2 separate regions of the Homo sapiens genome follow, and region 1 is linked to region 2. The links come from fine-mapping of genetic effects on gene expression. A gene starts in region 2. The other region holds a variant in brackets. All regions are shown on one strand. Distances are between the middles of the regions. Region 1 holds the start of LOC124903967 (a long non-coding RNA gene). Region 2 holds the start of MYO18A (myosin XVIIIA).

What was found. PIP is the estimated chance that this variant, and not a neighbour inherited with it, causes the effect.
Region 1: its variant is fine-mapped to the expression of MYO18A in whole blood (INTERVAL, PIP 0.99).

Annotation. Positions count from the first base shown.
Region 1 is chr17:29,133,665-29,145,989 of GRCh38, reverse strand. All of the region lies in intron 2 of MYO18A (myosin XVIIIA), which reads left to right. It overlaps LOC124903967 (a long non-coding RNA gene), which reads right to left and starts at 5,516. Exons shown (of 3, transcript XR_007065693.1): 1 at 5,464-5,516. RefSeq lists enhancers at 5,072-5,121, 5,272-5,361, 6,562-6,611, 6,304-7,287, 7,288-8,271 and a silencer at 5,822-5,871. The variant T/C (reference allele first, on the strand shown) is at 5,629.
Region 2 is chr17:29,174,719-29,187,043 of GRCh38, reverse strand. It overlaps MYO18A (myosin XVIIIA), which reads left to right and starts at 6,646. Exons shown (of 42, transcript NM_078471.4): 1 at 6,646-6,731. RefSeq lists silencers at 6,567-6,787, 6,753-6,802, 6,923-6,972, 9,974-10,173.

The DNA of each region.
Region 1 (12,325 bases), 41 kb after region 2:
CACTACGCCTGCCTGGCCCCTCTTTGCCTTCTCTTACACTACTTCTTCACCCTGGAATTCCCTTCCTACCTCATTGCCACATTATAACATTTCTCTCTTTCATTGGCCTAGCTCCAAGCTGTCTGTAAGCTGTCTACTTAATACCGTAACTGGAACAGATCTTTGCCTCTGAACTTCCCTAGACTGTTATTGACGTCCCTGACTTGAATTTTAATTATTGGGGTACATTTGTTATCTCCTCTGCTGATCTGTACATTTTTTTAAATCAGGAAGTATTTAGTTGAAAACAAGAACTAAATTATCTTCTTTCACTCAGTCACTCAAACGTGCCTCATATTGTCTCTGAGCAGGGCCCAGTGCTAGGTGAGTGCTGGGGATAGAGCAATGAACAACACACAACCTCTGCCTCAGGAAGCTCAGTCTGTGGTGGGGAAGCTGAAAAAGAAGCAGGCACGGTGCTTCCCCACAGTGTTCGCCTTGAGGTATTACAGTTCACAGCTAGTTGAATAAGTGAACGACTTCCTCCAGCCCTCAGAGCCTCCTGTCTGGCCTTCCCCCAGCTCTGCTTAGCCACTCTGCCTGGTCAAGTGCCTGAAACAGAGCCAAGGACCTTCCACTCATCCACGCCACCAATGTGGGAGAGCAGAGCAGTTGAAGTTGTCACCACACATGGAGATCCCCTTGTTCCCCACTCTATTCCAGCCCGTTTATTGTGCGTGCACCGTTCAGATCAGTTGGTTAAATCCATATGGATTTTCGTGGAACACCTTTTGTGTGCCTAGTGCTGGGGAACGGGATGGGATATAAAGGAAGTAGGAAATGGTCCCAGCTCTCCAGGGAGAGCAGGCTTAAACATTCAACACGAATCGATTATCATTCAGAACATTAGTTATGCTGTATAGTCATGGCACGTGGACAGTAAACTTCAATAAGTTCAACTATATGGTTGTGAAAGAAACTATATTACTGTAGCCTAAAATTATAAAAATAATATTTTGTGTGTTTTTACTATATGCTGTACATGACTATTATGCTTTCCTGCAGCTATATTATACCAAATGGCATACTCAAAATCATGTGTACTATACTTTGTGAGCAGTTTAAGGGATTTTCAGGAGTTTTGGACTATATTCTATTTTTGCCTTACGTGCTGACTTTGGAATCTAACCCCACATAGTGTGTGACTCCACTGTATATAATAGAGCACCATATTGAGTATAACCAAGAACCGTATGTATGTAATGTGTTCAGGTGTGGACAGTGAGTGCTATGGTTTATGATAATAATGATATTAATAATTTAATAACTATAATTTGCCAGGCCGCACATCAGTTGCTTTACATGTACTGCCTTTTCTATTCTTATAACAGCCTCATAAGGTGGATATCATACTATTTTAAGGCCAAAAAGGTAGAAACTCTAAGAAGTCAAGTAACTTTCCCTTAGGTCAGACAGCAAGAAAGAGGCTGGGATTCAGACCCAGGTGTGTCTGGCTGCCAAGCCCACGTTCTTTGCATTGCCGGGTGGGTCTTGGGTTTCAGGGAAGGCTTCATAAGGGAGGCAGGAGTTGAGATGGGCCTGGAGAGATGGAGAGGGTCAGCCAAGGTAGAGACACATTCGTAAGGAATGGCTCTGGTGGTGACAAGGGCAGGCAAATGACGGAGAGCCAGGCTGGCTGGGAAGAGGGAGAAGAGACTAGAAAAGTGAAAGTAAAGTCTGAGGAGGGGCCAGATTATAGCTTCCAGCTGTCCTTGGAGGCAAGCTGAGGGGCTTGGGGTGGCCTGGCTGGCTGTGGGAGTGTCCACATGGCCTCTGGAGCCATCAGTTAGACTCATCAAAGAAATGGACCATGCCCTGATATTGCACCACCACGCTTTGGGCAGCAGAGGGACTAGCTGTAGTTGCATGTGAAGCTGAGTGGAGACAGGCACACTGACAGACGAGTGACAGCTGATGGCCTAATGAGGTAGGGGACAAAAGAATTAAAAAGCAGACATATGGCCACAAAGGGCATCTGGCCTTCCTAATATAGGCATATGCAAGGCTTCAGCATGGTGGTGCCTAAGAGGGGCTGGTGCCCTTGGAGAGAGGCTGGGGCATTGGTGGGGCAGAAGCCAGGCTGCTGTAGCCAGGCCAGGAAGTCAGGAGTCATCATGGTGGAGATGGCGTGCCCTTCAGTACAGGATGGAGCAGAAATGGATTGGGTTCAAGAAGGAAAGCTCAGAGTGTGAGATCTTTGAGATGAATTAGGAGTGTTGTACTTAAGGAAGCAGGGTATATATGTTGGTTATTTTTAGGATTATAAATAGTATAGAATTTAGAAAATGACTTAAATCTTTTATCCCTTAAAAAGGGTAGGCTCCAGTTACCTGGAAATTTTGCTTACAATGCCTCATTTTTTCCCCCGCTTATGATCATAGGTAGATAATAATAGTTAAAATGTATTAAGGCCAAATGTGGTGGCTCATGCCTGTAATCCCAGCACTTTGGGAGGCTGAGGCAGGTGGATTGCTTGAGTGCAGGAGTTTGAGACCAGCCTGGGCAACATAGGGAAGCCCCATCTGTGCAAAAAAAAAAAAAAAAAAAACCTACATGGTGGCACGGTGGTGCATGCCTGTGATCCCAGCTACTACGGAGGCTGAGGTGGGAGGATGGGCTGAGCCCAGGAGATGGAGATTTCAGGGAACCAAGATAGTGCCACTGCACTCCAGCCTGGGCAAAAGAGCTTTTGTTTGTTTGTTTTGTTTTAAGTATTGAAAATGAATGTGCTGGACACCGTTCTCAGAGCTATGTATGAACTAATTCTTTTAACCCATGTAATAACCCCATGTGGTAGGTGCTATTATTTTCCCATTTTACAAATGAAGAAATTGAAGCACAGAGGCTGGGCATGGTGACTCACGCCTGTAATCCCAGCACTTTGGGAGGCCAAGGCGGGCAGATCACTTGCGGTCAGGAGTTCAAGGCCAGCCTGGCCAAAATGGTGAAACCCCGTCTCCACTAAAAATACAAAAATTAGCTGGGCGTGGTGGCGCCTGCCTGTAATCCCAGCTACACAGGAGCCTGAGGCACAAGAATCGCTTGAACCTGGGAGGCGGAGGTTGCAGTGAGCCGAGATGGAGCCACTGTACTCCAGCCGATAGAGTGAGTGAGACTCTATTTCAAAAAATAAAATACAAATGAAAAGAAGTTGAAACACAGAGAGATCAAGTTGTGTAGTTTACTTCATGCAAGAGCCAAGATTAAACCAGGCCGTGTGGCCCTGGAGGTCATACTCCTAACCATGGTATGCTGTGAATCATTCCTTTCAAGCCGTGCTTCTCAGACTTTAATGTGCCTCAGCATCACCTGGAAGCCTAGTTAAAACACAGATGCTGCACCCCATATCCAGAGTTCTTGGTTCAGCAGGTCTGGGTTGGGTTCCTGGAATTTGCATTTCCAACAAGTCCCCAGGGGATGCCCACGCTGCTGGCCTGAGAACTTGGAGAACCAAAGCCCTTTCACATACATTATGTACCAGTCTCATACTGGTTGGGTAAGAGTCAGTAAAGGTGTAATCCTCATTTTACAGATAAGGGAAATTTAAGTCACCTGCCTGTGTTCACACAGCTAAATCATTCATTCATTCACTCATTCATTTAACAAATGGACATTTCTGTGCTAGGCCTTATGCTGGCCTTAGAGTCTTGCAGTTCTCAGCCTTGGCTGCATGTGAGAATCACCTGGGGAGCTTTTATCAATAAAAAATCCCAGTGTCCAGCCAGGCGCAGTGGCTCACGCCTGTAATTCCAGCACTCTGGGAGGCCAAGGCGGGCGGATCACGAGGTCAGGAGATTGAGACCACGGTGAAACCCCGTCTCTACTAAAAATACAAAAAATTAGCCGGGCATGGTGGCAGGCGCCTGTAGTCCCAGCTACTCGGGAGGCTGAGGCAGGAGAATGGCGTGAACCCGGGAGGCGGAGCTTGCAGTGAGCCGAGATCACGCCACTGCACTCCAGCCTGGGCGACAGAGCGAGACTCCGTCTCAAAAAAAAACAAAAACAAAAAAATCCCAGTGCCCAGGCCCCTGCTCCCAGACCAATTATGTCAGAAACTGAGAGGGAAAGGGTGGGCTCCAGGCATCAGTATTTTTTTCAAGTTCCCCAGTGGATTTCAGTGAGCAGCTGAGGCTGGCACCATTGTTCTAAGTAGCCACTGAAGATGTGAAGACCTGTGACACTGCACGTGCTTCAGAAGGGCCAGATGCTTCCCCTGGGGGGACATCCCACTCCCTAGAGAGCAGGACACAAGCGCCGTGTCCTAAGAGTCTGTGTATGTGACTATATGACAGTGAGACTTGGACAGCGCATGGCAGGTAGGAGGCAGGGCTGGGTTTCCATCCTCTCTGGCAGTGCTTACCAATCTTTTCATGGAGAAAGTCAGACAATGTATAGAACCAATGGCCCTTAGAGCTGGCCAGGGGCAAGAAGCATGGGGTGTATGCCAGACTGGTTAGGAGGCGGTTCTGTATCAGGGCTTCCTAGCACCACCCCCACCCCATTTTTTTTTTTTCCTAAAGAGGAAGAGGGAGGCAATGACTGTTTCCTTTTTTCTGCAGAGCTGACGGCTTCTGAGACTTGCTCTCCCTGTCTTTTGGCCCCTTGACATTCTGTTCTCCAGCTCCCATTTCAGCGTCTCAGCGGGTCCCTAGTCCTGGTCTAGGCATCCCATGGTGCTAACTGGAGAGCCAGGCCAGGATTTCTCTTCACAAGAAACACTGGCTTTTCACAGGCAGCCATCACTCATTGGCTAGACACCCATGACTTCCTCTGTCTGCAGGGCTGAGGCCCACCCCACCCTCCTCTCTGCCTGTGCAGTCCCTGGCGTCTGTGGAGGGGAGAGGGATGTAAACAAAGAGAGTGTAATTGATTCTCTGCATGTCCCCTGTGTGCTGATGGCAGTGGGGCAGTAAGTGGGCCTGCCCGTGTGGGTCTCTGCTCCTGCCAGACCTTACAGGACTGCTTTGCGGCTGCTGTTTGGGCACAGTGTGCAGTGGGCCCCGTGTGCTGTCTTGGATGTGACGTTAGTGGCTGTCTTGGCCTCTGCCGCAGTAATTAGATGGCTAGGGTAGGCCTATGATTTGGGTGTTCTCAAGAACACTGTGTTGATTGAATGTTCGTGCATGCTGGTGTGTGTGTGTGTGTGTGTATACGTGTACATGCACATGAGTGCGCATGTGCTTGTCTCAAGCTTGGCCTGTGGGGCCGGGGGCTGCAGGTCTCAAATTCCTCTGCTATTTTTAGGAGCCATATCAGCCCAGCTGTCCCGGAGCTGGGGTGTGTGTCCATAGGCAAGTCTCACCCTCCCTGTCCTTGCCCTAACCCCCTAACACTGCCTGCCCCCCACCCCAATGGCTTTACCCTAAGAGCCTTCTCCTTCCCTTCCACACACACTGCTGTATCACCCTCTCCCTCCTGGCATACCTGATACCCGAAGTCCTCCGGGCTGCTGGCTCCAACTAGGGCTGGGCAGCTCGGGACGGGAGGGGCCGGGGAGAGGGCGGGAACTGGGCGGGGCCACAGCCTGTGCTATTTTGAGCTGCTAACGGAGCCAGAGCAGCATCAGAGCGGAGTCTCCTTGCTCTGGGC[T/C]GCTCCAGGCCAGGCCATGCGGGTGAGTGTCCCTCTGACCCCCCACCCCGGAAATGTCCCAGGCTCCTCATGCTATTTCCTCATTTAGGAAAGGAGGGACCTTTTTGTGATTTCCCCAGATGTGGCTGAAGTAGGTGGGGAGAGGGGTGGGGCAGCCTTGGGGCTCCTCTCCGAGCTTCTTGGTAAGAAGGGAGTTACTCAGCCCCGGAAGCCTCAAAACCCCTCCGTGGCTAGGAGCAGGGCATCCTGGGCCTGACTCATGACTTCAGGAGTTTTGGAGGGGCACTGTCTTCTGAACCTCAGTTTCCTGGGGTTGCATCCACCCCCAAGGCTGTGACACGCCTTCCCCACCAACCATTAGTGCTTTTTTGGCCTTCATTCCTTAGAACACTGTTTTCTTCCAAAGCCCCAGCCCCACAGCACCCAAGGTCCTCGGTAGTCTTGTCTCTGCTTTGTTGCTGGTATAGCTCTTTCCTCTCTTCCTCCTTGAGAGGGGATGGTCCTTGGAGTTGTCAGGGAGCACCCTTCTCGCTGTCCCCAAGAGTAGTCTTAGCATGGCCACCTCCATTTCTGTGCATAGGACACTTGCAAGGGGCACAGATGGCGTGTTGGGGATGCTCTGACTGGCCCTAAGTCTCTTTTTTAGTAGAGATTACTCCAGATAAGTAAGTTCCTTAAAAAAGAAAGTGAGGAGAGACATAGCTGCTCCCAGTCCTTCCCGTTCCCCTGACTCTACCCCTCCCAGCCACCAAGGGTAAGGTTTTCAGTTGTGTCAGCAGTTGGCAGAGTACGTGGGCTGGCCTGGTGCGGAGGTGCATCAGGAGCCTGAGATGTACCCGTGAGTACTTGTATCTCTCTGTGCTCAGGACTGCCCTGCCTCAGCCCCCAAACTGGCACCAGGGCTGAGTTGTGTGGGCAGTATGCCCGGGGGTGGGGGAGAGGTCAGAGAGAGCTCCTCACCCTGAGAGATGGGCGCTTCCTGGTCTAGGGTACTCTCCCCCAGCCACCCCCGGGCCACTAGCACCAGGTCACAGATTTAGGGCCATGCACAGTGATATCCAAGCAGACAGCAAAGTGCCCTCCAGAGGGGCAGTGAGCATCCCCAGGGAAGGGGGGCCTCCAGCAGGTTCAGTCGTTGGAGGAGGAAACCAAGACCCTTCTGCAACTGCAGTTGCGGCAGGAAGCCATTCCAGTGCACCTGCTTCCTCTGGGCTGGCCTGCAGTGAGGCGGGTGCCCGGCTGCTTTCTGTTCCGCCCTGGGGCTGGGGAGGGCTCTGGCTGGAGGCTGGACTGCAAGGGCCAGGTTGTCCCTGCCAAGCTCATCTCCCCCTCCCCCGCTGTCTGGCAGCATGGCCTTCAGTTCATTCCTTAGAGAGCTTCCCTTCCTCTCAAGCAGTTCCACGTAAAGCATATTCAGGTTGGTGGGTGGAGGGGCGGGTCATCATTGGGAACCCCTGCTTTCCTCCCAAGCTGCTCTTCTGGCAGCTGATGTAGAAGGACAACAGTGCAGGTGAACCAGGGGAAATGGAGGGCAGGGCGTGCCTCCATCCCTTAAAGTGAGCAGTGGAGGGCTCTCGCAGGAGACCTGAGTGTGAGTCCCAGATCTGCCACTTGCTGCTGTGAGGCTTTGGGCGAGTCACCTGACCTTCTGAGCCTCCTTTTGCTCATTTGTAAAGTAGCAGTCACACAGTCACACTAGTATCTATTTCAGAGGGATGTTGTGAGGATCAAATGAGATGATTCATGTGAGGGATTCAGCACAGCACCTGACACATACCAAATGCTCAATAATGATTAACCGTTTTTTACTATTATGCTAGTATTTCTTCCCTTCTCCTTTGTTCCTGCCACCCTTCCTCGCCCTCAATCCCTAGATAAGTTGGTGCTAGGTTGGGACTGGGAGGAAGAAGTCTCCTGGGAGCTGCCCTCTGTGCCTCTGAATGGGAAAGAGGGAGGAGAGGAGAATGCCCTGCCTCTTGGTCCTCAGAAGGAGAAGCCTCCGGTGTGTGAGTGCTGTCAGAAGCGGCGAGGCGGGAAAGTGACCTCGGCCACCAGCTACGTCTCAGCTTCCTTTGGGCACTCTCTTGAGAGTTACCTGCTGCTCTCGGGGGCTTGCAGTGTGCAGATGTCTGGTGTGGATGCTTGGGCCTCAAAGCATTTGTCCAGGCCAGGCATTCCAGGCCTGAGGGGCTGCCTGAGGCGTGGCATTATTCTCCCAGGAGCATTTGTGCCCCCATTCCCTCCTGTGAGGGGCCCAGAGAGTGCAGGTTAAGGGCGGGTAGGCTCTGCTGGCATGGTGGAGGGTAAACCCCAGCTGCTCCCAGAGTGTCAGAAGCCTCCTGGGGCTGAGGCTTGACAGTCCCTCAGTACATTTCTTGGATTTCTCCTCTTTGAGAACAAATGCTTCTAGCTATTATCTCCTTTGCTTTTTTTTTGACTATTTAGCCATCTTCACAATAAAAATAAGCAGTAAGTAACAAATACATACCAAAATAAATACCAGGTGTTCATGTTGTGTCTAATTCACACAGTTTACAAGATTATTATGATCACTGTTTGTATACTATTTGGGTTCCAGTTTTTTTGATTGATGTCATTTTATATGGAGCTTTCCATATGGTTACATTGTCCACACATTTGTCAGTTTAAATGGCAATACAACAACGGGTTGTACCTAACCATTTCTTAATTCTAGGCATTTGGGCTCTTTCCAATTTGGAGCTGTTATATAGAGTGCATCTATAAAAATCTTTGCGTTTTTTTTCTTTTTCTTTCTTTAAGTCAGCTCACTGGACATACATTCCTGAAGATGGAATGGGTAGGCCAGAGGATGATGCATTTTGTGGCTATTGTTCACGAAGAGCTACTAAGCAATTTCAGTGTCCTTGCCCTCCCTGCAAACCCAGGCATTGAGTTCACTATGTATTTATTGTGAGCAGGTTTAGAGATTATACCTCCCTTGTTTGTACCATGTCCCTGGGAATCAGAATGGGCAAGTGTTGTTCTCTGTAGTTTATATTTGGGGAAGAGATTAGATGGGAATAAGAGGTTTGTGCAAAGAACCCCTGTCCCAGCACTCTCGTGCAGCTAACATTTATTAAGCGCCTACAGTATGATGAGTAAGATGGGTAAGTTCTGCTCAGAGGTGAATCACAGTCCAGGGATGACAAAGACGCACAAACAGCTCCCCAAGATACATTCTGGTTGTGGCTCCCAGCTCTGCCACTTAATAGTTGCAGCGCTCTCGGCAATTCACCTTCTTTATTTCCTTATCTAGAAAGTGTGTTGTTATGAGGATTCAATGAGGAGACCTGTATGAAGTGCCTTCCCCTGTGCCTGGCTCATAGTAAGTGTTCAGTGAGTTTTGGTCTCTCTTGCTGTCCCTCAGAAGTGCCACAGAGGGAGGAGGTGGGTAGACCTGCAGAGTGGCAGAATCATGGTGGGGTCTCCCTTTTTGCACATCCAAAAACTCGATTTGGAGAGTTGCACACTAGTAAAACACACTATCAATCCATGCTTTGGCTTGACCAGATCTTCTGAACCTTCACGCCGATGAAGTTTATCAACCAGATTTGGCTACCAAAGCTGATGCCTGCCTAACATACCAGAAAAGGTGGGCACTGAGGAAGCAGCACAGGCTTTGGAGGCAGACCAGTGTGGGTTCAAGTCTGGGTTCCCCCACTTAACTAACTTTGTGACTTAATCTCTTTCTGAATCTTTTCCCTCCTCGATAAAATGGGAATAATAATAATTCCCATATCACCAATCCTCAGATTGTTGTAAGATTTACATTAGAAAATAAATGTTCAATATCTTGTATAGGGCCCATCTCATTGTAGGTGCTCCATATTCAGTAATGTTGCTGGAAATGGCTGAAATCTCTAGAGAGAGAACAAGTCAAGGAAGAGAGGCCTTAGATCTAAACACCCTTGCTCCAGAGAGCCATATGTTCCCAACACATATGCTGCCACCACCTTTGGGGCCTGAGTTCCTTACCCATTCTGTCTTGGATAACAGTAACTTGATCTTTTTTTTTTTTAATTTTTGTGGGTACATGGTAGGTTTATGTACTTATGGGATACATTACATATATATATATATATATATATATTTTTTTTTTTTTTTTCTTTTGAGATGGGGTCTCACTCGGTCACCCAGGCTGGAGCATGCAGTATTGCGATCTCTGCTCACTACAACCTCTGCCTCCCAGGCTCAAGCGATCCTCCCACCTCAGCCTCCCCAGTACCTGGGACCACAGGCATGCACCATCGTTCCCAGTTAATTTTTTGTGTTTTTGGTAGAGACAAGGATTCATCGTGTTGCCCAGGCTGGTCTCAAACTCCTGAGCTCAAGTAATCCACCCACCTCAGCCTCCCAAAGTTCTGGGATTACAGGCGTGAGCCACCACGCCCGGTCCATGAGATGTTTTGTTTTGATATGGGCATGCATTGAGAAACAAGCATGTGCTTGGGCAATGGACAATGGGGTCTCTACCCCCTCAAGCATTTATCCTTTGGGTTATAAACAATCCAGTTCCAGGATAACTTGCTCTTGATCCTAAACAAATTCAGTGATAAGGGAGAGAGGAAAACTGTCTAGGCAATTCTGCATAAAAGCCACAGAGAGAATTTCCTCTGGGGAGAGCCCCACATCTGTGTTCAGAGTGAAGCTCATAGGAACAGCTGATGCAGAGGAACAGGCCTGGGTGGAAATGGCCCGGTGTCCTCACAGCCTGGGCCAGATGGGACCTCTATAGACAAGTAGGAAAACTTGAACAAGAGATCAAAGATCAAACGAGTTAAAATTACACCAACAGACAAACTTAAAGTCTCTAGCACATTAACTGAATAATAAAACAGAAGTCAACAAAGCAAAATAGAAATAATTAATTGAAAACAAAACATTTCCTAATTTTTAACTATTATTCATGATAAGCAGTTTTAAGAATGAACCAGTTCTTGGCCGGGCGCGGTGGCTCACCTCTGTAATCCCAGCACTTTGGGAGGCCAAGGCGGGTGGATCACGAGGTCAGGAGATGAAGACCATCCTGGCTCACACGGTGAAACCCTGCCTCTACTAAAAAAATACAAAAAATTAGCTGGGCATGGTGGTGGACACCTGTAGTCCCAGCTACTCGGGAGGCTGAGGCAGGAGAATGGCGTGAACCCGGGAGGCGGAGGTTGCAGTGAGGCAAGATTGCACCACTGTACTCCAGCCTGGGTGATAGAGTGAGATGAGACTCTGTCTCAATTAAAAAAAAAAAAAGAACCAGTTATTAAACTCCACTGAAGTGCCCTGATTCTTTGGATGCAGCCTCTCCCTGGACTGAGGCAGATTCTGACTTGATTTTTCAAGCGGCCCAGCTCTGGTTTCTAATCCATAGATGGACAGTTTTGCAGTTCTCCGGGCCTCTTGCCCCACGTAATTGTGTGTTACAGCTGGAAGGCAAAGTCGCTGGGGTCCTGAGGCAGATTCCTCAATTCCTCTCCTAGGTCACAGGCCTGCAACTTTGGTTTACTGTATTAAGGGTTTGAGTGTTGGCTGGGCGTGGTGGCTCACACCTGTAATCCCAGCGCTTTGGGAAGCTGAGGCAGGTGGGTCACCTGAGGTCAGGAGTTCGAGACCAGCCTGACTAACATGGAGAAACCCCGTCTCTACTAAAAATACAGAAATTAGCCGGGCGTGGTAGCGGGCGCCTGTAATCCCAGCTACCTGGGAGGCTGAGGCAGGAGAATCGCTTGAGTCCGGGAGGTGGAGGTTGCAGTGAGCCGAGATCACGCCATTGTACTCCAGCCTGGGCAACAAGAGTGAAACTCCGACTCAATAAATAAATAAATAAATAGAGTTTGAGTGCCTCTCCCCACGTAGACTCCTAAGGTGCCAGACATGGAGAGGCCTTGAGCCATTGTCTAGACTAGCCCCTAATTCTACAGAGAGGCCCAAAGAGGCGAAGTGGCTTATTCAAAGCACACAGCTTCTGGCCGGGCACGTCAGCTCACACCTGTAATCCCAGCACTTTAGGACGCCAAGGCGGGTGGATCACCTGAGGTCAAGAGTTCGAGACTAGTCTGGCCAACATGGTGAACCCCCATCTCTACTAAAAAGTACAAAAATTAGCTGGGCGTGTTGGTGCCGGGGAGGCTGAGGCAGGAGAATCACTTGAACCCGGGAGGCAGAGGCTGCAGTGAGCCGAGATGGCACCATTGCACTTCAGCCTGGCCTACAGAGTGAGACTGCATCTCAAAAAATAAAAATAAAAAAATAAAAACAATGCACACAGCTTCCAAGGGTAGGGAGTGCTATGTTCTGTGCCTACTTTCCTTCATTTTCCTTTAATATTTTATTCCTTACTCCAATGCCCTCTTGAGTTTTGTAATCCTTCCTCCTCCACTCCATCCCTCCTTTCCCCTTGTTGCCCACAGTGTTTATCCTGGCAGGTTCTGGCCTTTGGGAAGACTCAGAGACACTGAGAGACCCTGCCCCCCATTTCTTCTCTGACCCAGGGCACAGGTTACCTTCAGCGCCATGGCCTTTTCATCAAGGTTCGCCTTCTGGGAGCAAAAGGAAAGTTGGATTTTAAAATCTTTATGTTTTTCCTGTGTGCTTGGCATGTTGTATCTGCAGGCAGGAGACTGGCTTGTGGGAGAGGGAGCTTTGGAAGCTAGAGATGGATTGGGGCATGTGTGTATAATTGGGG
Region 2 (12,325 bases):
TGAAGTTGTATGCTGGCTACTTGGGGGTTTATTATATTATTTTGTTTACATGTATATGTGTTTGACTTCCTGTTAGTAGCTTTTTTACCTCATTTCAGAGACGAGTTTCTTCATTTTGGACTGATCTTCAGCCAATACTCTAAGAATTTAGCTTTAAGTTTCCTGGAGAGCATTCTCCACCCACACTCCAAGTTTCTGCACAAAGGGTAAAGGATCTTAAGCTAATAAATGCAATAAGCTAATAAATGTTTGAGGAACAATATTTAAAGGTGTGCTTTTGACGTTTGAACAACACCAGCTATCAGGCAGATTTGCAATTCTGTGGACTTTTAAAAAAGCAGACTTGCTTATTTTCAATTCTTTTTGGAGAGTCATATCGTGGTAACTTACCACATGATAGGCATCATCTTACACACTTTACCATTTGCTATATCTTCTAAGCCTCACAGTAACTCTACATATTATTATCAGCCTCCATTTTACAGATGAAGAAATAGAGGTTCAGAGAGATTAATAATTCCTAACACTTGTTAACCACTTACTGTGTTTCGAGCACTGGGCTAATTGCTTTAAATGAATTTGCTTATTTTATTATCTCACACCCTTACAAGGTAGGCAATATTAATATTATTATTATTATTATTTTTGAGACGGAGTCTTGCTCTGTCCCCCAGGCTGGAGTGCAGTGGTGGGATCTCAGCTCACTGCAACCTCTGCCTCCCAGGTTCACACCATTCTCCTGCCTCAGCCTCCCAAGTAGCTGGGACTACAGGCGCCCGCCACCACGCCCGGCTAATTTTTTTGTTTGTTTGTTTGTTTTTTAGTAGAGACGGGGTTTCACCATGTTAGCCAGGACGGTCTCTATCTCCTGACCTCGTGATCTGCCTGCCTCGGCCTCCCAAAGTGCTGGGATTACAGGCGTGAGCCACTGCGCCTGGCCACATTATTATACCTCTTCTGTAGATGAGGAAATTGAGGTTTAGAGAGGCTAAGGAGCTTGCTGGCAGCTGCTAGAGCCAAGCATCCTCTCTGTGAGGCCCCAAAGCCCAGGCACTCACCACTCCACCCAGGATGCAGCCCAGAGCTTCAGGGCAAGCATTCCAGGCTCTGCTGTTTATTAGTCACAGTGCCTTGGGCAAATTAATTCACTTTCCCAAGCCTGGTTTCTAATCTGTGAAATGGGGATAAGACTAGCATCTCCCTAATATGGTAATTCTGGGGATTAAGTGAGACATTGGATTAAGGGGTTAGCATAGTGCCTGACCCATAGTTAGGCTCCCTTGATATAAGTGATTTTTATTACCCAGCTTCTTTCTGGGGTGGAGGGCTTCTTGATTAAAGTCGGATCATTTTAGGACTTTAGGAATCTTCTGGAAAAATTGGCCTTCCCATGACCATCTGGGTGATTTTATGTGGATACTGCTCTGGCTTTTTTCTGTGCGAAGAGGAGAGGGGTGCTTTACTTTTACTTTTACTTAGAGCTAGGGCAGGGTTTATTCTGGCATTTGGGAAGGAAAAGACTAAAATCAAGTGACGAAGAACCAGAGTTACTGTGTCAGTGTGAGTGCTGCCCTGGAGTTTCAGTCTTGCTTAGTGTCTGAAACTGGTTCCTGGTTCAGGCAAGAAGAGCTCTCAGGGACACCATATGCTACCCAGAGAGTGCCCTAGGTGTAGACACATGTAAATAAAAGAGTTGTTGACTGGCATGTGGTGGCTCACGCCTGTAATCCCAGCACTTTGGGAGGCCAAGGCAGGCGGATTACCTAAGGTCAGGAGTTTGAGACCAGCCTGGCTAACATGGTGAAACCCTGTTTCTACTAAAAATACAAAAAGTTAGCCAGGTGTGGTGGCGGGCGCCTGTAATCCCAGCTACTTGGGAGGCTGAGGCAGGAGAATCGCTTGAACCTGGGAGGCGGAGGTTGCAGTGAGCTAAGATGGCACCATTGCACTCCAGCTTGGGCAACAAGAGTGAAACTCTTCCTAAAAAAAAAAAAAAAAAAGAGTTGTTAATATACCTATTCATTTCACTGCCATGGTGTAGGGAAAAGAATGGGCTTTGGAGCCTTAGGGACCTCAGTTTGAATCCTGACTCTGCTACTCTTAGGCTGGGTACAAGTCACAAAGCTGTCTGTGCTTCATTTCCACAACTATGAGTTAGGAAAGATAACCAAGCTAACAGCTATAGAATGCTTACCATGTACTGGGCATTGTTCTTTTTATATATTAAATCATGTAATTTTTAAAAATTAATAAATACAAGGCCGGGCAAAATGGCTCACGCCTGTAATTCCAGCACTTTGGGAGGCCAAGGTGGGTGGATTACCTGAGGCCAGGAGTTTGAGACCAGCCTGGCCAACATGATGAAACCCCATCTCTACTAAAAATACAAAAATTAGCCTGGTGTGGCGGCACATGCCTGCAATCCCAGCTACTTGGGAGGCTGAGGCAGGAGAATCACTTGAACCTGGGAGGCAGAGGTTCCAGTGAGCTGAGATCACAGCACTGCACTCCAGCCTGGGTGGCAGACTGAGATCCTGTCTCAAAATAATAATAATAAATATTATTTTAAAAATCAGTTTAAGTTCACAGCCAAATTGAGCATAAAGTACAGAGATTTCCCATATGCCCCCTGCCCCGACACATGCACAGCCTTCCCCACGATCACACTCTTCACCAGAGTTGTACATTTGTTACAATCGATGAACCTACATTGACACATCAGTATCCCCCAAAGTCCATGGTTTACATTAGGATTCACTCTTGGTGTTGTACATTTTGTGGGTTTTGACAAACACATAATGACATGTATTCAACAGTGCGGTATCACACAGAAGAGTTTCACTGCCCTAAAAATCCTCTGTGCTTTGCATTTTCATCCCTCCCTCAACCTTAATCCATGGCACCACTAACCTTTTTATTGTCTCCATAGTTTTGCCTTTTGCAGAATGCCATATAGTTGGAATCATACAACATGTAGCCTTTTCAGATCAGCTTCTTTCACTTATTAATATACATTTAAGTTTCCTCCATGTCTTTTCATGGCTTGATAGCTCATTTCTTTTTTAGTGCCACATAATATGCCATTGTCTAGATATACCATAGGTTATTTGTCCATTTACCTACTGAAGTTCATCTTGGTTGCTTCCAAGTTTTGGCAATTATGAATAAAGTTGCTACAAACATCATGTGCAGGATTTTGTGTGGACATAAGTTTTCAATTCATTTGGATAAATACCAAGGAGTGGGATTGTTGGATTGTATGGTAAGAATATGTTTCATTTTCTAAGAAACCACCAAACTGTCTTTCAAAGTGGCTATACCATTTTGCTACCAGCAGAGAATGGGAGTTCCTGTTGCTCTACATTCTTGCTAGCATTTGGAGTTGTTGGCATTTCGGATTTTGGCCAAAATCCAAATTTAGGTAAATAAAGTAGTTTTACCTCATGGTCATCTTAATTTGCTATTCTCTTTTATTTTTTATTTATTATTATTTTTTGAGACGGAGTCTTGCTCTGTCACCCAGGCTGGAGTGCAGTGGTGCAATCTCGGCTCACTGCACCCTCTGCCTCCTGGGTTCAAGTGAATCTCCTGCCTCAGCCTCCTGAGTAGCTGGGACTACAGGTGCATGCCACCACACCAGGCTAATTTTTGTTCTTTTAGTAGAGACAGGGTTTCACCATGTAGGCCAGGATGGTCTGGATCTCTTGACCTCCTGATCCACCTGCCTCGGCCTCCCAAAGTGCTGGGATTACAGGCGTGAGCCACTGCACCTGGCTTTAATTTGCTATTCTCTAGTGACATACAATGTTGAGTATCTTTTCTTTTGCTTACTACTATCTGTATATCTTCTTTGGTAAGGTGTCTGATCAGGTTTTTTACCCATTTCTAAATTGGGTGGTTTTCTTATTGTTGAGTTTTTAAAACTCTTTGCATATTTTGGATAACAGTCCTTTATCAGATGTCTTTTGCATATTTTTAGTAGAGACGGGGTTTCACCATGTTAGCCAGGATGGTCTCGAGCTCCTGATCTCATGACACACCTGCCTCAGCCTCCCAAAGTGCTGGGATTACAGGCGTGAGCCACCGCACCTGGCTTTAATTTGCTATTCTCTAATGATATACAGTGTTGAATATCTTTTCTTTTGCTTACTGCTATCTGTATATCTTCTTTGGTAAGGTGTCTGATCAGGTTTTTTGCCCATTTCTAAATTGGGTGGTTCATTTTCTTATTGTTGAGTTTTTAAAACTCTGCGTATTTTGGATAACAATCCTTTATCAGATGTCTTTTGCATATATTTTATCCCAGTTGTGGCTTGTCTTCTCATTCTCTTGACAGTCTTTTGCAGAGCAGACATTTTTAATTTTAATGAAGCCCAGCTTATCAGCTCTTTCTTTTATGGTGCCTTTGGTGTTGTATCTAAAGAGTCATTGTGATACTCAAGGTCATCTAGGTTTTCTCCTATGTTATCCTCTAGGAGACAGTTTTATAGTTTTGTGTTTTACATTTAGGTATATAATCTATTCTGAGTTAATTTTTGTGAAGGGTATAAAGTCTGTGTCTAGACCCCCCCCTTTTTTTTTTTTTGCATGTGGATGTCCAGTTTGTTGAAAAGCCCCATGTGTTGAAAAGACTAAGCTTATATAATTTTCAAAACAAATTTTGAGGGAGGGAGTCACTGTTATTATCCCAATTTTTTGGATGAGCAAAGTGAAGCACAGAGAGGTGATTTATAAAAAATCACCCAGAGTAACACAGCTAGTACTTTACAGAACTGAGATTTTGAATCCAGGCAATCCAGCTCCAGAGTCCATGCACTCAACCCCTATCTATAATAATAATGTCTCCCTCATAGGTTCATTGTGAGGAGTAGAGATAGTGTCTAGTATATAATAGGTACTCAGGAAACACTAATGATAGTCGTTGTCCTACTTAGCCTGCAAGGTTCCGCTCAAATGTCATGTTTTTGGGGTTTTTTTTTTTTCTTTTTTGGAGACAGAGTCTTGCTCTGTCGCCCAGGCTGAAGTACAGTGGTGTAATCTCCGCTCACTGCAACCTCTGCTCCCCAGGTTCAAGAGATTCTCCTGCCTCAGCCTCCCAAGTAGCTGGGATTATAGACATGCACTACCACGCCTGGTTAATTTTTTGTATTTGTAGTAGTGATGGGGTTTCGCCATGTTGGCCAGGCTGGTCTTGAACGCTGGCCTCAAGTGATCTGCCCACCTCAGCCTCCCAAAGTGCTGGGATTACAGGCATAAGCCACCATGCCTGGCCTCAAATGTCATGTTTTTGAAGCTGCTCTTCTCACTCCTCAAGCCAAATAAGCCTCCCATCATAGCACCTATCTCATCATCCAAGTAATGCCAGCATGGTGAACCCTACTACTGTCACAGCTCAGGTCTACCTGTTCCCCATGTGATTTCCCTGGAGATATGCCATGTCTGATCTCCTTCTGTGTCACCCCAAGTGCCTGGGGCTGCACTTGGCACTTAGCAGGCAGTTTGTTAAATTGAATTTGAGTTGCATGTTATTCCAAAATGTGTATCCCGCCTGGGTCTATTCCTCAGGAACTCCCTAACTCTTACTCAACTCTCTGCTTTCTGAGCCTCCTTGCTCCAGCCTTCCCTGGTCTGTCAGGTTGGGCTGCCCTTGCCTGGAGAAGTTCCTGTTTGGGCTGTCTAGGGAGGTAGCAGCATTTGTCTGCTACACCCTTCTTCCTGCACCACCCCACTCAGTTTCTTCCACATTCTGGCACACCCCACTCCAGCATGGACACTGCCCAGGGAAGTGTCCCCATTTCTTTCTTTCTCCAAACTCTAGACATAGCACCTATCTTGGAGGCCTGGTATCTGGATGTCCCTTGGCCTCTCCCAGGAAGTATAAACTGTCTTCTTGGTGGGTACAGCAGCTCACTTGATATTTACAGCACACAGTGGACCCAGGGACAGACTGCATTCCAAAGAGCTTCTGAAAGTGTTAATCTTGGCATTGGTGAACTCCTTTAGGGAGTGAGTGGCACTTACAGCCATGGCTCCCGGGCCCTGGTACGCCTCTTGATCCACTCCATTTTGAGGCAGGGCTGTATCAGACCAAGCTATTGGGAGTCTGTTTTTACCTTGGGGAGTGCATTCTGGCAGTGCCATCTCGGACATGGCAGGCAGTACCTGGTCTGGACTGAGCCTGGGGCACCATCCAGCAGGGCCCTGTGTGTGCCTCTGCAGAGCCACCTTGGGAGGAGGCGGCCAGTAAGACTTAATTGCTTCCTTTAGACAGCACTACCTTGAACACAGCCTGCAGAGTTCGGTGCCTGCCTTGGACAGCCCCTCTTCTATACGTTCATCATGACCCTGGTGCCTGTCCTAGGCAGTGCCACTCAGCCCCTTTCGGACCCTTTTCGGACAGCCTCCAGTGCCCAGTGCAGACAGAAACTCCAGGCAGGGCCTCTCTCAGACACAGCGAGAGGGGCTTCGGAGTCCACAGCGGACGGAGGCTGCCAGGGCAGCGCCCGGCCCGCCTGGCCCACGTCTGGCGGCGCGCACTGGCGCTGCCAGGCAGGCCGGGCGTTTATCCCCACAGCCGCCAGCAGGGAGCTCCCTTTCGGCTCGGCCTGCGCGGTCGCTGGGGGCGGCGCTGAGCTGCGCCGCGCTGCGCTCTGCTCCATCCCTGACCGGGCCGAGGCTGCTGGATGCCGCGTCTCCGCTTCTGCTGCCTGCCGGGCGGGCTCCGGTGGCCGGTGAGTGCCGGTCGGCGGCGGCGGCCGCTCGGTGGCGGGCCCGGCTTGGTGGGGCGGCGGGGCGGGCTCCGGCCGGGAGGGAGGGCGGGCGGGCGGCGGGGCCCGCCGGCTCCTCCTCCTCCTCCCCCGTCCCCTGGAAGCAGCGGCCCGGACTCCCGGCTCCCGTCCCTGGCGGCGCCGTGGAGCTCGACGCCCGGGGGTGGGGGCCGATCGGGAGCGGCGGGGAAGGGGGAACCACCGGCCCTTCCAGCCAACCTGGGGGGCGCAGGGAGGCAGGACAGGGTGGCCTTCAGTGTGGGGGGATTTGGGGCTTGGAGGCGCCCAGGTGGCCCGGAGCTGCGGGGTGGGGGCTGCAGCCTCGAGGGTGGGGGGACTTCTCCTGCCCCCGTCCAGGCCCCACGATGGAGCGAGCGAGAGAGCGGGGCGCTGAGGAAGGCAGCGGGGAAGGGGAGCACCTCTACCGACCCTTTTATCCCTCCCAGCGGCCTTCACTCTTTCACTGCCGGGCAGACTGCGGGCTCCTCTCAAAGGAGCAGCTGCTAGACAGCTGGCAAAACAATGGAGACCCCGCTTCCCTGGGCCCCCTCCTCTTGGGACAGAAGATGAGAGGGTGAATGGTGGCAGGCTTTGGGGATTAGGGAGTGCAGGCTGTGCCCTGAGACTGAATGCTCACCTCACCTTTCCCTGCAGAGGGGTGGGGTGCGTGTGGGAAGGTCGGACAAGCTGCCCCAGGCCTCTGGAGAGACCGCCCCGACGCCCCGCCCTGCTAACCTGTCATGCCAGTTGTTTCGCCAATGGGAAGGGGAGGTGGTAGGGGTGGCTGCCCCCTCACCCTGCCCCTTGTTAGTGGGGGTGCGCTCCTTGGTCCCAAACCCGGCCAGGAGTGTGGGTCATGTTCCTGGGTGCGATAAGGCCCGCAGGGACAGGCCAGGCATTGGGGCTTTGTTTTGGGGGTGGAGATGGGGGAGTTGCCCTACTGCAAGGCACATGTGTCTTGCTGATTAGTTGGAAAGGTTGCGGCCAGAATGAGCTAGAGGTGGGGGGTGGGGGAGATGGGGAGGAAGACAGCCAGTTTGTTTTTGAGCGGGTATTCATTTTGCCTGACCACTTTGCCAATGGGGCATGTGTTTGGCGCTGGCCTCATAGTTTGTATTTGTGTGGGGAGGGCTGGGGGAATGCTTCCTGAGAGGGACTGTCCTGGCTAGGGCTTTCATTCCCTCAGATGGCCACCCCGAATTAAAGAATTGGATTCCCTCCCTGCTTCACCCTGCCAATGACTTGGGCTAGTTAGTGTGGGTTCGTCTTGTCTTTTGGAGCCCCTGGCGTGTCTGTGGCCGAGAAGGCCTCATCAGTGCCCCTGTGGCAAGTGAGCTCTGGGAAGTGTGTATGCACTGGGGTGTGCTGGAAGGGAGGGGAGGCCACCTGGGTGATTAAGAGCAAGATCACCTGAGCAGGACGGTGAGTACAGAGCCCATTGAATCAGCCGCCTTTCCCTTGTGCTTTGGAGCCCTTTTCTTGAGCAGGTTGGTGCCCTGTTGTTGTGGCAACAGGCCTGGCCTAATGTTCCCCACCCTTTTTAGTTCAGGGGCTACTTTCTATCTGGAGATATTGAAAGTTGCTCTCCTGAGGTCTCTGGCTTCCTGACAAGCCTCACTGGCTCTTTGTCCATGGCTTCCCACCTCCTCAGCTTCCTCTCTGTTTTTTTGTGATGAAGTCTTTCCAGGAAACATCCTCCTGGTTTCTGGATTTGACATGACGGGTTATATATAGCCTCGGGTGGAGGTGTGCTTGTCCATTTTGGGTTGAGGACATGGGGGTTGTGGCCTCAATTCCAGGAAAACCATGGCTTTGGGGGCAGCTATTGTGTTGAGGGATTAGGGGAATGAGAAGGGTTGTAGGTGGGGGTGGAGGGTGGGCATGGGAGGGGCCACAGGCTGGCGGTCACTTCCTTTGGGAGCTTTGAACTTTGAACAGTTGATGACCTGGTGCCTGGTAGCTCTGAGTGTCTAGTTTGTTTACTCTCTCCTGGCCTGGCCCAGGTGCCAGAGTGTGTGCCTGAGGGCTTCCTCCTGCGCCCCAGACTTTCCTCATGTGGGTTATGCCCTTCCTGACTCCCACCTGGTCTCTCAGCCTCACTCCTGGGCTGTCTGGGTAGCCAGCCAGTTCCCTGGAGGCCCCCTCACTGGCCCTGGTAGTGGCTATTCATTGAGGACTGCATGTGTCTTCAGAAACTGGGCCTGAAAACTCTGGGTCCCCCAGAGGCAGGTACCTAAAGGTGGACTGGGTGGGGCAGAACTGGGGCTCATGTGAAAGGGAGAATCCACCCTGCTGAGGTGGAGCTGGGAGTTGTTGGAACTCAGGAAGCCTTCATCTGGACTTGCTGTGTCACAGGTCTTCAGGGCAGCAGGGCTGTTCTTAATCCTTCAAACCAGAGGTCTCTCCTCAGCCAGATCCTCTCACCTGGGGTGGACGCCACAGGCAGGAGCCAGAGCATCCACGTGAGCTGGGTTTTGTTGGTGGCCTGGGGTCCCAGGCCTGAGTGTGGTGGGAAAACTGAGGGGCTCTGGCTGGTTGTAGTTTAAAGGTTTGGGGCAGTAGGAGGGCCCAGCCCACTGTCTGCTGTAATTGACAGGTTCCCACAGGACTTGGGATTGGTAGGGCAGCTTGATGGAGTTTAAGTTCTGCTTTGGGTCAGACCCCCGGGTGCTTTAAGATCTGCACACCCCACCCCATCACCATTTCTTCCCCCTAGCATTTTCCAAGGTGGCCTGAATTAGAGGAGTTGGGGAGGTGCCGAGGTAGGAGCTGGATTGGGAGGGGTGGTGAGCAGACCTGGTGAGCCTCCACTTCCCACCTTCACTTCCCTGCCCTTCTTTTGAGGTAGGAATTGCAGGGCTTGTAAAATGTCAATTTCCCTTGACATTTTAAACAGTTTAGAGTCAGGCAGCAGTTTTGGTTGTTAGACTGATGATTTTACAGGACCCAGGGCCCTTTCTGTCTGCCAAGTAGTTTATCATCACTTACAAGAGATTATTGTGATTATTCTCTAATATTCAGAGAGGTTGGATGATGGGCTGAAGGTCACACAGCAAGTCAGAGGCAGAGCGGGATTACAACCTGCAGTGTGTGGTTGAGCAGAATAGCTCTCCAGCAGAGGCTGAGGGCCAAATCTGAGCTGTCAGGCCCTTGAAGATAACTGTAGCTGAAATAGTGGAGGCTTAGAGAGGGGAGGGGACTTGCTCAAGGTCACACGGAAGGGGATGTTAGCGGAACTGAGCGCCAGGCGGTGCACCTGGAAGAGCAGCAGGGAACCTGGCGAGGCCGCAGGAGCTCTCCCGCTCGCGTTCCTCCATGGCCCGCGGGATTGCTGCCTTCCGGGGGAGATGGGATCGCAGCGGGAGGCGCCGCGGGGCTGCGGCTGCGCCGGCCCAGCCGCGGGGAAACGCCAAGGGCCGCCCGGCTCCCCGCGCGGCGGCGTGAGGGCTGGCTAATGTCACGTGAGAAGCGTGCAGTCGGCGTGAGGGAGCACACCTGGAGCCAGATAAGCTCCGTGTGACCTGGCAGGGAGTCACCCGGCGCTGCGGAGCTCAGCACAGCCGGCCGGGAGGAGGCTCCCCCTGGAGCACGGGGCCAGGCCAGGTGCTGGCTACCCCTCCGGCCGCTGCTACAACCCTTGGCGAGGGGCAGAGCGCGGGGAGAGAGCCGGGGTCCCGGGGCTGGAGGAAACGGCCGCTCAGGGAGGTCAGAGGCCAAGGGAGAGAGGCCGGCTCTCTCGGGAAAGTATTTCCTTTGTATTTATTTATGAGTGTGGTCTGGGGGTGGGGGTGGGAGGACTGACCTAAGTATCTATCCACCACAGCCAACTCTGGGCACCCTTGTCTTGGGACTCTAACGTTATAGTTTCCATTTCCTGGGTTTTTTTTTTCTTTTGCCAGCTGCTAGGTGACCCATTTAAATGTGTCCCCACTTACAGCCACAAGACACCAGTGAACTCTATTTTAACCAAGTCCCCCAAGCCACTGAAACTTTTTCAAGACATGAAGGCAATCCTTAAACTGACCATTACCCTGTTTGCAGCTTTACTGCTGGTGGATTGCCTACTAGTTTGTCCATTTTTTTTTAGTCTGGAAAAAAGTTGAATCATTAGGTAGAAAGCTAAAGCGTTACTAAAGTGTTACCCTTCTTCTCCCCTACTCTCCAGAGATGACCACTGATAAATTTTTGGATCGAATTTTTCCAGACTGCTGTTTTTTTTGAGAAGGAGTCTCGCTCTGTCACCCAGGCTGGAGTGCAGTGGCGCAATCTTGGCTCACTGCAACCTCCGCCTCCGGGGTTCAAGCAATTCTCTGCCTCAGCCTCCCGAGCAGCTGGGATTACAGGCGCCCGCCACCACGCCCGGCTACTTTTTTGTATTTTTAGTAGAGACAGGGTTTCACCATCTTGGCCAGGCTGGTCTTGAACTCCTGACCTCGTCATCCACCTGCCTCGGCCTCCCAAAGTGCTGGGATTACAGGTGTGAGCCACTGCGCCTGGCCAGACTGCTTTTTAAAAGCTTGTTATATATATTTTAGGCACTATATATGTTTATAGTTTAATATATGTTTTATAAAATATCATCTTATATAAATATTTAAAAAATTTCTGTAGTAGGCCGGACACAGTGGTTCACACCTGTAATCCCAGGACTTTGGGAGGCTGAGATAGGCAGATTGCTTGAGCCCAGGAATTTGAGACCAGGCTGGGCAACATGGCAAGACCCTGTCTCTACAAAAAATACAGAAGTTAGCTGGGTGTGGTGGCGAGTGCCTGTAGTCCCAGCTACTCAGGAGGCTGCGGTGGGAAGGATCGCTTGAGTCCCAGGAGGTTGAGGCTGCAGTGAGCCGAGATCGCACCACACTCTAGCCTGGAGGACACAGTGGGACCCTGTCTCAAAAAAAAAAAAAAAAAAGATGAAATAAAAGTAGAAGAAAAATGATAGATAATTCCACTCCCTGAAGCTCCTAGGTGTAAGCAAATACACATTTACCAGATGAATGTTCTTATAAAAAATTAAAATATAGCCCGAGTGCGGTGGCCCATGCCTATAATCCAGTACTTTGGAGGCCAAGGTGGGTGGACCACTTGAAGCCAGGAGTTCAAGATCAGCCTGACCAACATGGTGAGACCCCATCTCTGTTATTTAAAAAAAAAGAAAAAAAATTAAAATATGGATGAAACACAAGTCTATTTGACCCTTCTAAAATTCCAGTCTCCTCCCCAGAGCATATATTTTTCCTACACATATGCAAATATTGTACACAACGTACATGTAATATATTCATGCACATATATAGATATAGGTTTTTAAATTTTAGCAAAATTATAAACTATCCTGCAACCTATTTTTTCACTTAACAATATAGTATAGAATCTTTCCAGGTCAGTGTATACAAATCTACTTCATTCTTTTTACTTTTAATTATACAACTGCTCAGTTGTATAATTTAGCTTTTTTTTTTGAGACAGAGTCTCGCCCTTTCGCGCAGGCTGGAGTGCTGCAATGGCGTGATCTCGGCTCACTGCAACCTCCGCTTCCTGGATTCAAGCGATTCTCC